Homo sapiens: one gene and its partners. The protein of the gene in region 1 interacts with the protein of each later gene in a pairwise test. Each region holds a gene or a part of one and is shown in the gene's direction. Other genes may lie near its edges.

The links.
Region 2: the proteins of PLAGL2 (region 1) and IRX2 interact in binary tests that used the Homo sapiens proteins (3 or more experiments, as listed by UniProt).
Region 3: the proteins of PLAGL2 (region 1) and DHX57 interact in binary tests that used the Homo sapiens proteins (3 or more experiments, as listed by UniProt).

The regions. Positions count from the first base shown.
Region 1 is NC_000020.11:32,197,634-32,204,760, reverse strand, and holds part of PLAGL2 (zinc finger protein PLAGL2), read left to right. Parts: exon of another isoform or gene 1-1,281; intron 1,282-2,468; 5' UTR 2,469-2,582; coding exon 2,583-2,842; intron 2,843-7,078; coding exon 7,079-7,127. UniProt on the Homo sapiens protein: Shows weak transcriptional activatory activity.
Region 2 is NC_000005.10:2,745,585-2,748,724, reverse strand, and holds the end of IRX2 (iroquois-class homeodomain protein IRX-2), read left to right. Parts: coding exon 1-380; intron 381-1,108; coding exon 1,109-1,161; 3' UTR 1,162-2,560; downstream 2,561-3,140.
Region 3 is NC_000002.12:38,858,899-38,866,025, reverse strand, and holds part of DHX57 (putative ATP-dependent RNA helicase DHX57), read left to right. Parts: intron 1-2,506; coding exon 2,507-2,665; intron 2,666-3,692; coding exon 3,693-3,881; intron 3,882-4,188; coding exon 4,189-5,027; intron 5,028-7,127. UniProt on the Homo sapiens protein: Probable ATP-binding RNA helicase.

The DNA.
Region 1 (7,127 bases):
CTGAAGGAACAGGCCTTCTGCTTATGTAAGACAAACCCAGGAATCTTTCTGGATCAGAGGAGTTTTCAGACAAAGGGCAGAGAGAGACTAGATCCCCAAAAGGGTTCCTAGGTAACACTAGCAGCTTTGGTTATCCAAGAGGCTGCTGGTGACTGTAGGTAGGGACTTCCTGTGCCTTTTGAAAAGTGTAGGAGAGTAGGATCAGGGTGTTGGCTCTTTTCTTTGTGAAGACATAGCCCCATTAAAAGCAGATCAAGGTGAGCACATGGCTGCTGCTTTCCTCCTTTGGTTCTATCAGTACAAGCTCCTTAGCCACCACCAGCCTCTTTCCTAGAAGCCCATTACTCACTCTTTCAGTAGCAGCCTACTAAACTATTGTGTCTTGTTTGTGCTTGTTCAGGAGAACAGATGAGGTGGACGTGTGGGAGGTGGGGACGTAATGTTCTCTTTCTGAGTTTGTGTGGAGTTTCCAGGGCTAGGCTCCTCTCTCACATCAGCCAAATTGATGTGACTTGTTTCCTTCTGGCTGCCATTCCCAACTTTCCAGAGGCTGAGGTGCATGATTTCAAATTGAAGGGGGAGTAGAATTTGACTTTGAAGGTAGGGGTAATTCCCTCCAATCTAAACATGCACACTCGAGCACACTCTCTGCTCAATTCCAAGGTGCATAGTAATTGCTGGTATTACAAACAGGTAATTCCACCCTTGCAAAGGAGGAGGGGACTTAAACAATGAAAGCCAGACGTCACAGGCCTTTGAGGTTTATAGTGAAGCAGGCACATATGCCATAATGACTTGAAGGCTCAAGTGGGACTAGTTTTTAGTGCTACCTACCCCTCCCCAGCATGTGATTCATGCAAAATGCAGCCACCTTAATGCAGATCTTTCTAGACAAATCTACACTCGTGATGGGGACGTGTTTATCATATTACATCGCAGTGTTTCTTCAACAAGAGGAATGGTTCCTGAACAGGACGTAGCTCATGTTAATGATGAGCAAAGCTCTCTGGGGCATGAACCCGCTGATCCCATCATCTTGTTCACGGCCAGTCTGTTGGATGAATGGTCACTGTAAGCAGCAGGTGCTAATGAGCTGAGCAAGCATTCTGTGGCCCACAGCTAGTTTGTGCAGTTGGAGCCCTCCCCAGATTCTCGTGGATAATCCCCAGACACCCCCTTTTCTCTCTTCACATGGAAAAGCCTCATGATCAAATTTTGGCACCATCTCTTCAAAGGGAATCCCCCTGTTGTAGCAGGTTGCATCGTGGTTGGTAATCTGTGGTAAGCTTGGGAGTATGAATGTGGGTCTCTTGTCCCCTTTTGAGAGTCAGTGTGGTAACTCCCATCCTCTTCCTCTGGATTAGTATCTGGAATGGAGTTGTGTCGTTCTTGCACATCTCCCCTTCTATTCAACAAGAGAAAGAATCAGACTTTAAGATTTCGGCTCCCCACTTGGGAATGGCTGCGAACCCAGTTTAAACCAGAACTACCTGGGCCTAGGTTGGTCCCTGAGAATCAACCTGCATTCAGTGACTAGTTTACCTATCTGAAATAAAGTTAGGGTTCCTTTTCTAGATATTAGGTATATAGAGATGAAAGAGAGATGATGCAAGCCCTCAGACAATCAGGCTGGTGGAGAGGAGTAAATTCCAATGCGAGCTCGCTACCGTCTTCTAAAGGAGATGTGCATATGTACTCTGAGGCCCTGTAGGAGGGGCCTCTCAGCACCTAGGGGTGTTGGACAGGCTTTGCTAAAGAGGGATGGTCTGGGCCCTGAGACACAGTGACCCAGAGAAGTGGTGGTGGTCAGGATGGGACCAGTTCTAGTCCTGGTTTAGGGAAAATGCTAAGAATCTGCTGTTGCCTTCCCATATAGACCCTCCTGATGTTGATGCACTGCTAAGAAACACATCTGGTACCAGGACTGACTAGGATGTAAATTTCCTAAGTAGAGGCTTCCCCTTCCTCCTCTCTTGCCTTTTGGGCATTTTATTGCTCCTTAGCACCTCCATGAGGAGGACAATTGTGGAAAGTAGTGGACGAGGAGGTGCCAGGGTAATAAGAAGGAGGAACCGCTATCTCTAGGTTCAATGGAAAGGATATAAAAGTGAGGTCCAGAAGAAAAAGTTTGAAGTTTTGGGGCTTTTGGTTCCTCAGTTTATCTTGTTTCTTATTAGCCTAGATGGTACTAGTAATAGTAGCTACCACTAAGCACTTAATGGATGCCCAGCCTTCTGCTGAATGCTTTATATTCATGATCTCATTTAATCCTCAAAACATTTTTATAATTTAGGAGATTATTATGCCCATTTTATAAATGAGGAAACAGCTCAGGGAAGTAAGTAATTGGCTGAAAGTCACACAGCTTCTAAGTGGAAGGGCTGGGATTGGAACGGGATCTGTCTGCTTCCAGAGCCCATGTTCTCATGGTATTGGGCTCCCTAACACCAGGTGTTCTGATGTTTCAGGTGAAGAGATTGTTTTCTGAAAGCTGCGTTGGAGGCTGTGACAGAGCTGAGAGCCTGTGTGGAGCGGATGGGGAGGCTTTCTCAATAACATGGCCCTTTGCCATTAGCCTTGCCATGACCACATTTTTCACCAGCGTCCCCCCCTGGATTCAAGATGCAAAGCAGGAGGAGGAAGTGGGCTGGAAACTAGTTCCCAGGCCTCGGGGCCGGGAGGCGGAGAGTCAAGTGAAGTGCCAATGTGAAATTTCGGGAACACCTTTCTCAAATGGGGAGAAGCTGAGGCCTCACAGCCTCCCGCAACCAGAGCAGAGACCATATAGCTGCCCTCAGCTGCACTGTGGCAAGGCTTTTGCTTCCAAATACAAGCTGTATAGGTAGGTGACACTCTCATATCTCTTCCTGCCCTGAGGTTCCCAGAGGGAAAAAGCAGAGAGACTCTGCCTAGTGTGGGTTTTTAATCTGTGGCAGAAGAGTGGAGGTTAATTTGTCCTACAAGTATACCCTGAATGCCAAACAGTTGAAGTCACTCACTAAAAAATGATTCAGATTGCTTGATTCAGACACTAGAATCTGATGGGTTGCCTCCCCAAAGTATTGGGATTGCTGGCGTGAGCCACTGCACCTGGCCTTCTTACACCTTCTTAGTGACGATCTGGGTGCCAATGTCAGGCAGCCTTGAGTTTTGTTTGTTTGTTTGTTTGTTTTTTTAAGAAATGGGAGTCTTGCTCTGTCATCCAGGCTAGAGTACAGTGGTGCAATCAGCTCACTGCAGCCTCCAATTCCTGGGCTCAAGTGATTCTCTTGACTCATTCTCCCAGGTAACTAGGATTACAGGCTTGAACCACCGCACCTGGTTGTTTTTAATTTTTTGTAGATATGGGGGTGTGGCTGTGTTCCCCAGGCTGGTTTCAAACTCCTGGGCTCAAGTGATCCTCCTGCCTTGGCTTCCCAAAGCAGTGAGATTACAGGCATGAGCCACCGCACTTAGCCCTGAACATTTTTTTTTAAATATTGCTTTCCTCACCTTTGTCAGGTGATGGTCAGAATTTTAGCTAGAAGTTAGGAATCAGTATTCGAACTTTAGAAGGAAAAGTAGACCTTCTGGCCCAGTCTGTAAATTTTAAAGTAGAGGTTCAGAGTAGGGACATAACTTACCCAAGGTCACACAGCTTCAGAGGTCCTGCAGTGCCTCTTCTACTGAATCAGCCTGCTACTTACTCATTTAACTATGTCTGTCTCCCTGTTGCCCACTGGGGCAGCTGCTTTTCTGAAACTTGTAAGCCCAAGAACCCCTACTTAAAGTGAAATTAAACGTAAAAGCCCTGACATAAGGCAGATAGAGAAGAGCAGCTTTGGTTGCTTTGGTGAGGATGGGGAGGCATGGTCAAAAGCAATTTTGGGCCAGGCGTGGTGGCTCGCACTTGTAATCCCAGCACTTTGGGAGGCTGAGGCGGGCGGATCACTTGAGGCCAGGAGTTTGAGGCAAGCCTGGCCAACATGGTGAAACCCCATCTCTACTAAAAATTTTTTAAAAATTAGCTGGGTGTGGTGGCACATGCCTGTAGTCCCAGCTACTTGGGACTCTGTGGCAGGAGAATCACTTGAACCCAGGAGAAGGAGGTTGCAGTGAACTGAGATTGTGCCACTGTACTCCAGCCTGGGTGACAGAGCAAGACTGTCTCAAAAAAAACAAAAAAGAGCAATTTTGATTTTATCCTTTTCGCATTAGAGGAACCATGAACTTGCCCTTTAGAAATGAGATAGATCAGCCGGGTGCGGTGGCTCACGCCTGTAATCCCAGCACTTTGGGAGGCCAAGGCAGGCGGATCACGAGGTCAGGAGATCGAGACCACGGTGAAACCCCGTCTCTACTAAAAATACAAAAAAAATTAGCTGGGCGCGGTGGCAGGCGCCTGTAGTCCCAGCTACCGGGAGGCTGAGGCAGGAGAATGGTGTGAACCCAGGAGGCAGAGCTTGCAGTGAGCCGAGATCACACCACTGCACTCCAGCCTGGGCGACAGAGCGAGACTCCGTCTCAAAAAAAAAGAAATGAGATAGATTGGCCTGATGCACAGTCATCCAACCATCCATTCATCTATCCAACATTATTGAGCTCTTGCTCTGTACCAGGCACAGTGCTCGGTGCAAGGGGCGGAGTAGTGAGCCAGACAGATGGGGGTGCTGGTCCTCCTTGGGTTTATGGTCTTAATAGTGGGTACAGACAGTAAACAAGTAAATACATGAACAAGATGACCACAAAGCCTCAGTTCCTCATCTGGAAAACAGTTAATAGGAAGGGACTAAAATAGGCAACAGGGTAGCATGGTAGTCAGGATTGCCCTCTTGACAATTCTGTGGTCCTCAGGAGTGCTTAGATTCTCTGTGTGCTCCTATAAGTTAAGGGAACTCCAGTCAAGGCCATACTCTTAGGCTTTCTTTTTTTTCTTTTTTTTTTGAGACAGGGTCTCACTTTTGCCCAAGCTGGAGTATAGTGGCGTGATTATAACTAACTGCAGCCTCAAACTCCTGGGCTCAAGTGATCCTCCTGCCTCAGCCTCCTGAGTAGCTAGGATCACAGGCATGTACCACCACCACACCCGCTAATTTTTGCATGTTTCCTAGAGACAGGATCTCTTCCCTGTGTTGTGCAGGGTGATCTCAAATTCCTGGCCTCAAGCAGTCCCTCCACCTTAGCCTCCCAAAGTATTGGGATTACTGGCATGAGCCACTGCACCCGGCCTTCTTAGACTTTCTTAATGATGATCTGGTTGCCAGTGGGCGGCTGCAGGAAAGGTCCTGGGTCAGGAGGCAGGAGCCCTGACTCATCACATATAATTTACTGTGTGATCTTAGGTGAGTTGCTAGACCTCTTTGGGCCTCAGTTTCCTCACCTGCAAAATGAGGGAAATGAAAAGTGGATCACTCAGCACCTCCCTCTCTACATTACCACGTCAGTTCCATCACAGGAGGTTGACAGTAACCCACATAGGCACGAGCACTCTTGAGCATGCATATGTGGGATGTGGGCAGGGGGTGTGTTTGATACCCTCCAGGTAGAAAGGATCACAGAGTGCTGTACGAGAGAGAGACAGCTGTTGCATACCTGACTGAACATAGGTCTTCCGAAGGCCTGTTTAAATTCAGCCTCTGCTAGGGTGAGGGGGCTGCCTTTTTTTTAGACTCCTTTCCTTGTCTGGAGATCAAGGTTAATGACACAGCTTATGCAGAGCCTGGCAAACAGTGGGTGCTGAGTTGATTCTGAATATGCTCTGGAGCTGTGAATTGCAGTTCCTGGATTCTGAGCCACTTTTCAACCATATAGGATCAGGTAAACCAAGGGACACTGAAGTGCCATACCATTAAAACATTTCTTAAAGTGTTACTGGTTTATATGACAAGCAATTCAAGTGGTACATACTGGCATGCAGTGAAGAATGAATGATCCTCACACTCGAAGTCACTATTCCTCTCCCCAAAGGCAGCTGGTGGGTTGGTTTTTGTGTATCCTTCCTAAGACATTCAAACATGTATATTCTCTTTCTTTTTTATTTTCAAAACAGATTGTATCACATGTACTGTATTGAACTTCCTTTTTTGACTTAGCCCTGTATATCTTGGAAATTTGTTCTAGATAAGGAAGTTTATTTATTTATTTAGAGACGGAGTCTTGCTCTGTCACCCAGGATGGAGTGCAGTGGTGCGATCACAGCTCACTGCAACTTCAAATTCCTGGGCTCAAGTAATCCTGCCTTAGCCTCTTGAGTAGCTAGGACTACAGGTGCATGCTGCCATGCCCATCTAATGGTTAAGATTTTGTAGAGACAAGGTCTCGCTATGTTGTTCAGGTTGGTCTGAAACTCCTGGGCTCAAATGATCCTCCTGCCTCACCCTCCCATAGTGCTGTGATTACAGGCATGCACCACTGTGCCCAGACTGCACGTTTAGGTATATTTTATTTTCTCTTTATTGTATCATTTAAAATTATTTAAATGTAATGTTTAAAAAATGAAATACTTTCACGTAATTCAAAATTCAAAAAGTACCAAAACTTATACGATGAAAATTCTCCATGACACCCATCTATAAGCTGTTCGGTTCTTTTTCGCATAGGCAGCCACTGGTATCAGTTTCTTGTATGTCCTTCCAGAAATATTTTAGCCATATACAAGCAAACATACATATATTTTTCCCCTTTTCACATAGAGTCCTAGTCTACATCCACTATTCTGCCTCCTTGCTTTTTTTCTACTTCCTGTCTCTTAGGAGCATGTTCCCTGTAAGTACACAAAAAGCCTCATTTTTGAAAAGTTGAGTCATTTTATGGACTTATCATAATTTATGTAACCAGTTCCCTATTGATAGATTGGACGTTCAGATTGTTTCTGATTTTTTTTGCTACTACAAGCAATGCTGCAAAGAATGTCGGTACACATTATTTTGCAGATAGGCAAGGATATCTGTAGAATATAACTGGTTTGGTATTGCATTGCAAGCCTTTACCATGGTTTTTATATCTAGTTTCCTGTTAATGGACACCTTTGGTTGTCCAGTCATCCCTTGTGATCTCCCCTCTTTCTGCTTTCTCCCCTATCCCCTGTCTCTACCCCCAGGCACATGGCCACCCACTCAGCCCAGAAACCCCACCAGTGTATGTACTGT
Region 2 (3,140 bases), on another chromosome or scaffold:
GCTGTGGTCGCTGGCCGAGATCGCCACGTCGGACCTCAAGCAGCCGAGCCTGGGCCCGGGCTGCGGGCCACCGGGGCTGCCCGCGGCCGCCGCGCCGGCCTCAACCGGGGCACCGCCAGGAGGCTCGCCCTACCCTGCCTCGCCGCTGCTGGGCCGCCCCCTCTACTACACGTCGCCCTTCTACGGCAACTACACAAACTACGGGAACTTGAACGCGGCGCTGCAGGGCCAGGGTCTCCTGCGGTACAACTCTGCGGCCGCGGCCCCCGGCGAGGCCCTGCACACCGCGCCAAAGGCGGCCAGCGACGCGGGCAAGGCGGGCGCGCACCCGCTCGAGTCCCACTACCGGTCCCCGGGCGGCGGCTACGAGCCCAAGAAAGGTAGGCGGCCCGCGGCCGGCGGCGCCCGGGAGGGGAGGGAGAGCCAGCCCCGGGGAGGCGGAGCGCCCGGGAGACCCGAGGGAGGGTCCGGGAAGAAGATCCAGGGGGCCACTCCTGGGACCCAGAATTAGCAGAGTGAGGGCGGAGGGCGAGATGGAAGCCAAAGAAGGTGTGGCCCTCTTTTTAGACTTGCCCTGTTATTATTTATTTTTACTTAATTTACTGTTATTTTGACTATTACTATCGTGGCTGTCTTAGTTTCGGCAAACCCAGATTGCCACGAAATTCAAATTACAGCGTGTCGCCCTAATGAGCCTGGGTGTGTTTCGGTGTCTTGTTAAGGAGTCAGAGTTGAATCCGCTTTTCTGCCGTTGGCTAGAGGCAAACAGAACGTTCCAGTTACTCTCAGAGGCGTTTTGTCTTCAAAAGATAAAATCAAATGTTTTTTCCGCTTTTTGTTGTTGTCGTTGTTCGGAAAGAAAACCGTTTTTTCCCCTGTGCTATGTTGCCTGTGTTGCTCCTAAGTCAGGCTACCCGAAAGAGGAGTTCAAGGGGGGAAGTTAAGAACTAGGGACCATCACCAAAAGTCGTCTCAGATAGCGGCCCTGGAGACAGTCGGTTTCCCAAACTGCTGTTTGCCTGGGAGTGGAGGATGGTGGGTGCACGGTGGTCTGCGCAGCCAGCAGGCTGTGGGGTCGGTTCTGACTAACTGCCCACTCCCCTGACAGATGCCAGCGAGGGCTGCACCGTGGTTGGCGGGGGCGTCCAGCCCTACCTATAGAAGGGCCGAGCACAGCAATGCAAGTAAGTGGGCACCCTGGTGCTTCCCAGACCCTGTGGAGCCTCCCAGCACCAACTTGCTTAATGTGTTTTTCTTGCTTCTGGTCATGGGGTTAGAAGACAGAGCATTTCAATCTTGTCCAGCTTTTCTTTCCTTAAGGGGGAAACTATATTTTCTGTTTTATAGATTCCCTCTTTTTGGCACAAGTTCTATCACTCCTTTACCTAGGGAAGGAAAAAAAAAATATATATATATATGTGTGTGTGTGTGTGTGTAATATATATATGTATATATATAGTACATGTATATATATAGTACATGTGTATATATATATTACACACTACTGTTGTTTTCTTTTGAAACAATAGATTATTAAAATCTGGGCATTTATATGCAATTTAGAGCCATTTTTACTATGCTAGACACATAATAGACACATGCTTTGATGAGCTTGGGCTACCAAAACTTGGAGTAGCAAAAACCTTTATAGATGATGTTTGCAAAATAAGACTGAAGAGACACGAGGCGTACTAGTCTTTTATCAGCCCTGTCCAACCTCCCCTCCACCCATGTCCAAGTGGACAGGACTCTGACATTCTCCCGGGGCTCACAACAGTATCTCAAAAAATATGTTGCTTTGCAACGAGTCAGAATTACTAATCATAGATCTTGAAGATAAGAAAGATTTGGAACCACTTCAGATCAACTCGTTTTTATAATGGTGTTGTTGTGGAACTGAAAGATTGGGGATGATTTGGTTTTTTCCTTGGTCCACAGGTAGGTGTCACAATTGCTTTGAAAAAAAAAAAAAAAAAAAAGTCAGCAGGCCATTCTCTCTTCCCAAGCTCATAAATTTACAGATACAACAAACAGATGTCTAAATCCAGACCACATCTTGTGCCACTGTAAAAGAGAAGGATCCACACAGCACTGTCAGCCCACAGACTCTAACAATTGGAACAGACTATTGTTGGACATATGTGAATTTGTTGGCATAGTATAGTTTCCCCGATGTATGTGTGACTTTTGAAAACAATCTGTTTTTCTCAGGATATCTTGAATTGATCACTTCATTGCCACGGTATATATTCTATAGGTGTGATAGGATTTACTGTAAAGTTTATTTGTAAAAGATGTACACAGTAGAAATAAAACGTGATGGAAGAACTTGAGTACTTCAGAAGTGGAAACAAATTTGATATTTATTTTTATAATGATATAAAGCTTCTAGTAATTTATGCAAGTTGTATTGCAATGGAATCTAAACTTTTTGTAAATAAATTCTGCCTGGTTTTTATTTGAACATTGCTGGTTATACAATCTTTGTTGGTTGTTTAACACGAATTCTTTACTAATTTATATCTTAAATTGTAAATAAAAACAGACTAGTCTACAATAATATGATGTTTGGGGCTTATTTTTCCTAGAAGAATGATTTGGGGTAGAGCGCTAGTGAATAACCTCCAGGTGATCTGACCTCACCTTTTTAATGAAAACCTGTGTGAAATAAACTCTCCTTTCTCTCCTGAGCATTGAAAAAAAAAAAAAAAGGCAGATGGAAGAGAAGTATATAATCGGGAGAAACATGTGCTGTAGATGATTTCTATACAGGTATTGCAAAAAAACCAAAAAACATAAGATTTTTGTGCCCTGAGTGTGCTAATTACTTGTTAGTGTAAATTTTTAAAACTTGGCAAAATAAAATGATCTGACACCCTATGCATTTTATATTTATTTCTGATGCTGGCTTCTTGAACCTCCTCAGTAAACCAAACTGGAGAATAATATTGATAATGGAGAGCCACACCCCCCCACCAATAAATTACTGATGGAAATAATTGTTTTTTTTAAAGGCTGAATTATCCAAATTGGCCTAATTATTCAAATTTATGGAAGGATTTCTTAACTGTCCTTTTCCTATAATGCACATTAAACCTCGGGTGAGGATCTGGGGGAGGGACTTACTTTCCTTTCAGTGG
Region 3 (7,127 bases), on another chromosome or scaffold:
ATTTTGCTGTCCCTTCCTCCCTCTTCTTCCCTCCCAGCCAGGAACCTTTGTGCAGTGTACAGTCTATGAATCTATACTCAATAGCATTGACTGGGTGTGCTTTGTAGAGAATAAACTATAAAGGGGCATGAGTTGAAAGCAAGGAGACCAGTTAGGAGATGTTCTCCAAGTGTAGATATAAAATAGATAATTTAATATATAAATCTGAGGTTCAAGAAAAAGATCTAGGCTGGAGATGTAAATGTGTGAGTCTTCTATAGATAAATGCTAAAGTTCTGAGTCTGGATAAAATCGAATAGAGAAGGTATCTGATGTTTGAGCCCTGGGACACTCTAGGTTTTAAAGCTAAGAGAATTTGGAATGTTCCCAACACAAAGAAATGATAAATGTGTGAGGTGTTAGATATCCTAATTACCCTGATTTGATCACTACACATTGTATGCATGTATCAAAATAGCACATGTACCCCTGTATTAGTCCATTCTCACGCTGCTATAAGGACATACCCAAGACTGAGTAATTTATAAAGGAAAGAGGTTTAATTGACTCACAGTACCACAGGGCTGGGGTGGCCTCAGGAAACTTACAATCATGCTGAAAGGGGAAGCAAAAGCATCCTTCTTCACAAGGTGGCAGGAGAAAGAAGAATGAGAGCCAAGTAAAGGGGGACACCCCTTATAAAACCATCAGATCTCGTGAGAAGTTACTCACTATCACGAGAATAGCATGGGGGAGACTGCCCCCATGATTCAACTACCTCCAACCGGTTCCCTCCCATAACATGTGGGGATTATGGGAACTTCAATTGAAGATGAGATTTGACTTGCAGCCAAACCATTATCAACCGTATAAAGAATGTACAATTATTATGTGTCAATAAAAATTTTTAGTTAAAAAATAAATAAAGCTAAGAGAAAGTATGAAAAACAAAGGGGATTGAGAAGGAGCTGCCAATGAAGTAGGAAACTAAGAGAGTGGTTTTTGGAAGCCAAGGGACAAAGGTGTTTTAAAGGAGAGTAGCCAATAAGATCGAATTGTATGCTTAAAGAGGGTACACATTTGTGGAAAAATGCTTCTGGTAGGTCAAGGAAAATGTGCACTAAGAATTGTCCACTGCATTTGACAATGTGGGTATCATGGTTAACCTTGACAAGAGCTGTAGTAGCATAGGAAATACTGATTGGGTTGTGTTTCAGAGAGAAGAGGAAAGAAAATGGAGACAGAGACAATGATTTTGATAACCTAAATGAGAAGTTTTACTATAAGGGAGCTAGAGGGAGGAGAGATGGGTCAGTAGCTACAGGGAGATGTGCACTCAAGGGAGGATTTGGCTTGGTTTCATTTTTTTAAGAGGGTAGACCTTATAGTATGTCTGTATGCTGATGGGAATGATCCAAAGAAGAATGAAAAACCAGTGATTTAGAAAGGGGGATAAGTGCTGGAATGATTTCCTTGAGGAGATTAAAGAGATTGGCATATAGTTTACAAATAGAAAGGCTGACTTTAAGATAAAGGATGACTTTAAGATAGGAGCATGTGAAACTCCCAACTCCCCCTCATGTTTAACTGATCATTTCCTAATGATCAGACAAATCATAAGAGATTATATATGCTGTGTAATTTTTTTATTTCTTTTTTTTTAAATAGAGACAGGATCTTGCTATATTGCCCAGGCTGGTCTCGAACTCCTGGGGCTTAAGCAATCCTACCACTTCAGCCTCTTAAAGTGCTGGAATTACAGGTGTGAGCCAATGCCCCTGGCCTTTTTTTTTTTTTTTTTAATAATCAGAAATAAAGATAATTGGGTATTTTAGAAATGGGGCCTTAATATTCACAAGGAAGAATGAAACTCAGTGGTTTTCAGATTTTAATGCAGAATGAAATGAAATGCTCTTCATGTCCTATAGTGCAGAGGAAACCATCATTAGCATTGCTTTTTCCTAAGGATTCTTGAGTTAGTGAAGCCAGAATTAATGATTAAGAATCTGTTAAGTTTTGTTGTTTTTTTTTTTTTTAAACGGAATCTCGCTCTGTTGCCCAGGCTGTAGTGCAGTGGCACAATCTTGGCTTACTGCAACCTCTACCTCCAAGTTCAAGTGATTCTCCTGCCTCAGCCTCCTGAGTAGCTAGGATTACAGGAGCGCACTGCCACGCCCAGATAATTTTTGTATTTTTAGTAGAGACAGCATTTCACCATGTTGGCCAGGCTGGTCTGAAACTCCTGACCTCAGGTGATCCGCCAGCCTCGGCCTCCCAAAGTGCCAGGATTACAGGCGTGAGCCACTGCGCCTGGCCAAGAATCTGATAAGGTTTTTTTCCAGCAGGTCTGATATAATGAAGTCTGGTAAATACTATAGAAAATGGAGAATCTCCTCACATTCATTGTCATCTTTTGTAAGATACTTGACAATCCAGTTTGTATTGTGTATATCTGGGGACCCCTGAGGAGAGTGTAAAAGTTCTGATTGAAGATATGTGTGTAATTTTGCTCTTTTGTTCTCTATAGACCTAGCAACAGTAACATAAGCAAAGGAGAGTCACGCCCAAAATGGAAACCCAAAGCCAAAGTACCCCTTCAGACTCTACATATGACTTCTGAGAATCAAGAGAAAGTGAAAGCTCTTCTCCGAGACCTGCAAGAACAAGATGCTGATGCTGGATCTGAGTAAATTGTTTTATTTGAGTCAATTATTATATTAAGGAAAACATACTGGCAGTGTGAAGGTCCTGTGCATCTTTGGAATGCTGTGTCAGTACTGATTCTATTGTGGCCATTTAATTAGTTGAAAGTGAGCCAAGAGTAATACAAGAATAATTATTCAGCCACAATTTTAGAGTGAGTTTGTTTTGCAACATCCATGGGATTGCCTTTTTATCTTTATTTTTTTCCAGGGCAGTGCTCATATGGATTCAGTAACTGATTTATCTGTAACCTTCCAGATAAACCCTTGTAATGAACAAGTAGAAGTAGTGTTGAATGAGCAAATATTGACTCGGTCAGGTGCAGTCTTAGGATTTGCTTGTCATGACTGTCTGCCTAAGAGAAAGCTTTTACTCTTAAATCTTATTCGTTTCCCACTCTACTGCATTTCGGCTCTTTTGCTTTGGATTTCAGTTGGAGAAGTTAATTCCTTCTTTCCATTTACCAAAATTAATTAGTGGCCAGTCATGAACAGCTCATTTTCCATCCTATCTACAAATCTCTTATCTGTTTTAGATTTAGAAAGGGAGATTATGTAGCAAAACAAACAATTAGGGATAGTGTTTTTATGAATGAGAAGAGAGAGAATAGCCAAGGTTTCTGTGGTTAAGAACACAGGAATCTGTCTGCCTTTGGCAAAATCTCTATTTGCTCCTTAATGTGTAACCTAGGCAGTTACTAATCCTCTCTGAGTTTTAGTTGATCATCTAGAAAAAAAAAAAAAAAAGGACATTCCAGTAGTATTTGGTACAGTTATTGGGAAGATTAAAGGAGTTAGTTCATATAAAGCACTTAACACAGTAACTGGTATTTAATAAATGCCTGGTAAATGTTAATTGCCAAGATATAAATTAATAGTTCAATATAAGATTAAATCAGCAACTGAAGAGTAGTCAGGATCCTATGAATTAAATTCTTAGACCTTTGCTAAATTTTTCTTTGAAGTAAGTAGAAAGTAATATCTAATATATGAAAATGTTGCCTTTGCTAGAAGAGGCCTTTCTGGGGAGGAGGAAGATGATGAGCCTGATTGCTGTAACGATGAGCGGTACTGGCCAGCTGGACAGGAACCTTCCCTCGTTCCCGACTTGGATCCTTTGGAATATGCTGGCTTAGCCTCAGTGGAGCCTTATGTTCCAGAATTTACAGTCTCCCCATTTGCAGTGCAAAAACTTTCCAGGTGATTGCTTTGATCATTTATGGGAGTTGGGAAAGAATTCAAGGAAACCGAAATCATATAAACCCACTACCCCTCTTTGTGTACTTTCCTATTATGTGGGTTCCAGCAATGCCTGATAGGCCTAATATTCTATCTTATCAGAAGGGGTCATTCAGGGGGGCTTATTGTTATCAGGGATGCTTTTTCAAAATACAAGCCCTGCCTATGTGTAGTCATAACTTCATCTAAGCATATTTAAATGAATTTTACTGTAATGGTGTGATACTGCTTTTTATGTGTCATTTTTGTCATGTTTTGCCCTTGACAGGTATGGTTTCAATACTGAACGCTGTCAAGCGGTCCTGAGGATGTGTGATGGAGATGTGGGAGCATCACTAGAGCATCTCCTTACCCAGTGTTTTTCAGAGACATTTGGAGAGAGGATGAAGATCTCTGAGGCAGTCAACCAGATAAGCTTGGATGAGTGTATGGAACAGCGACAGGAAGAGGCATTTGCTCTCAAGTCCATCTGTGGAGAAAAATTTATAGAAAGAATTCAGAACAGAGTCTGGACCATTGGGTTAGAACTGGAGTATCTGACAAGTAGATTCCGCAAATCCAAGCCAAAAGAAAGTACCAAAAATGTACAAGAGAATTCACTTGAAATCTGTAAATTTTACCTCAAAGGAAATTGTAAATTTGGATCAAAATGCAGATTCAAACATGAAGTGCCCCCAAATCAAATTGTTGGAAGAATAGAAAGAAGTGTAGATGATTCTCATCTTAATGCTATTGAAGATGCATCTTTTTTATATGAACTTGAAATTCGATTTTCTAAAGACCACAAATATCCCTACCAAGCTCCGCTCGTGGCATTTTATTCCACCAATGAGAACCTACCTCTGGCTTGTCGTTTACATATTTCTGAGTTTCTTTATGACAAGGCCTTGACATTTGCGGAAACTTCGGAACCTGTCGTATATTCTTTGATAACCCTTTTAGAGGAAGAGTCGGAAATAGTCAAGTTACTAACGAATACCCACCACAAGTATAGTGACCCTCCTGTGAACTTTCTGCCAGTACCCTCTAGGACCAGAATAAATAATCCTGCCTGTCATAAAACAGTGATTCCAAATAATTCTTTTGTTTCTAATCAAATTCCAGAAGGTATGTAAGGCATTGATCTTGTGGAGGGAGGCATTCAGAATGATGGGTTTAGAAGTCAAAGCCTTTAAGGCTGGTCTAGGATGGCTTAGTGATCTTGAACAAGCTGAACAAGCCATTAAGTCCCAAGGGCAAAAGGGAATGAGAATTCCCTGAACTGTAATTGTATCTGACTTTAATTGTAAGGCTCAATTGTGTTGCTGTGGTTGGGCTCCCTGAGTTGAAAGTTTGTAGTGACGTATGTTTAACTATATAAAATCCGAGGCTTGGAAGGACCTTAAGGTACGTTCTCAGAAAATCTGTTTTATTTAATTCATTTGGTTTTCTTTTGTTTACTTCTTATACTGTATACTGAATTACTTTCAAATGAATTTTTAGAGATATTTTGCTTTCTATACCACTATCCATACCCTCCTGCTTTTGGTGTACTAGACCCCCAGAATTCTTTAGGGATAGCTCTATGAATCCCTAAATCCTCAAATACTTGTGCAGGCTTCTAGCTTTGTCTAGATCTAGGTTTACTGTGCAAATTCTTTTTATTTTTATTTTTTTAAGATGGAGTTTCACTCTTGTCCCCCAAGCTGGAGTGCAGTGGTATGATCTCAGCTCACTGCAACCTCTGACTCCCAGGTTCAAGCGATTCTCCTGCCTCAGCCTCCTGAGTAGCTGGGATTACAGGCACCCGCCACCACGCCTGGCTAATTTTTCTATTTTTAGTAAGACAGGGTTTCACCATGTTGGCCAGGCTGGTCTTGAACTCCTGACCTCAGGTGATCCGCCTGCCTTGGCCTCCCAAAGTGCTGGGATTACAGGCGTGAGCCATCGCACATGGGCTGCTATGCAGATTCTTACACCACAAGTAAGCCCCTTTCAAAGAATTCTCTGCTGGGTGTGGTGGCTCATGCCTGTAATCCCAGCACTTTGGGAGGCTGAAGTGAGAGCACTGCTTGACCCCAGGAGTTTGAGACCAGCCTGGGCAGCATAATGAGACCCCATCTCTAGAAAATATATATATTTTCTTAGCTAGTCAGCCATGGTTGTGCACTCCTCTGAGTCCCAGGTACTCAAGAGGCTGATGTGGGGGAATCACTTCAGCCTCAGAGGTAGAAGCTGCAGTGAGTCATTGCATTTCGGCCTTGGAGACAGAGTGAGACTCTATTTCTTAATTAAAAAAAAAAAAAAAAGGATCCTCTTTTATTGGTTGCCATCTATCTTTCTTCCAGAGAAACAAAAGTTTGTATTATTTCATGAGAGTCCTTGGGTAAACTTCAATGAGTAGAGAACAGTGACACTGTTCTGAGATGTGGCTGCTGGTCATTTAGCCAGATTCACTCACTAACCACCCGACCCACTCCCAGATGGCAGCTTCTAGCGCATGGGATTCAAATGTGTTCCTTGGGAAATGAAAATTATGTGTCATGCACTTTTTTTCTAAAATAATAGTTTTATTGAGACATAATTTATATACCATAAAATTCACTCTTTTAAAATACACAATTCAATGGTTTTTAGTATTTTTATAGAATTATGCAACAATAACCACCTTTTAATCCCTGGACGTTATCATCAACCCCAAAAGAAACCCTGTACCCATGTACCCATAGCAGTCTCTCCTCATTTTCCCCTTCCCCCAGCCCCTCATAACCACAAATCTGCTGTCTATCTCTATGGATTTGCCTACTCTGGACATTTCATAGAAATGGAATTACACAATATGCAGCTTTTTGAGATGGGCTTCTTTCACTTAGCTAATGTGTTCAAGGTTCATCCGTGTTCTAGCACATATCACTACATCATTCCTTTTTATTAGTGAATAATATTCTATTATGTGGACATACCACATTTTGTTCATTGATTCATCATTTGATAGATATTTGTGTTGTTTTACGTTGTGGGATTTGGGGACACTTGCGTACAGTTGAAACATTCACTGCTAATTCTTTTAATGCTAATTACTTTGTTTGTGCTTGATAAAAGTTTATTTGAGGATGCATTTTAAGTTCTTTAGAAATAGAAATACTAGAAATGAATGAACTTACTTTATTCAAGTTTTCACTTTTTCTCCATTTTGACTTTTTGTTGTTGATACTCTGTTAGACAGCG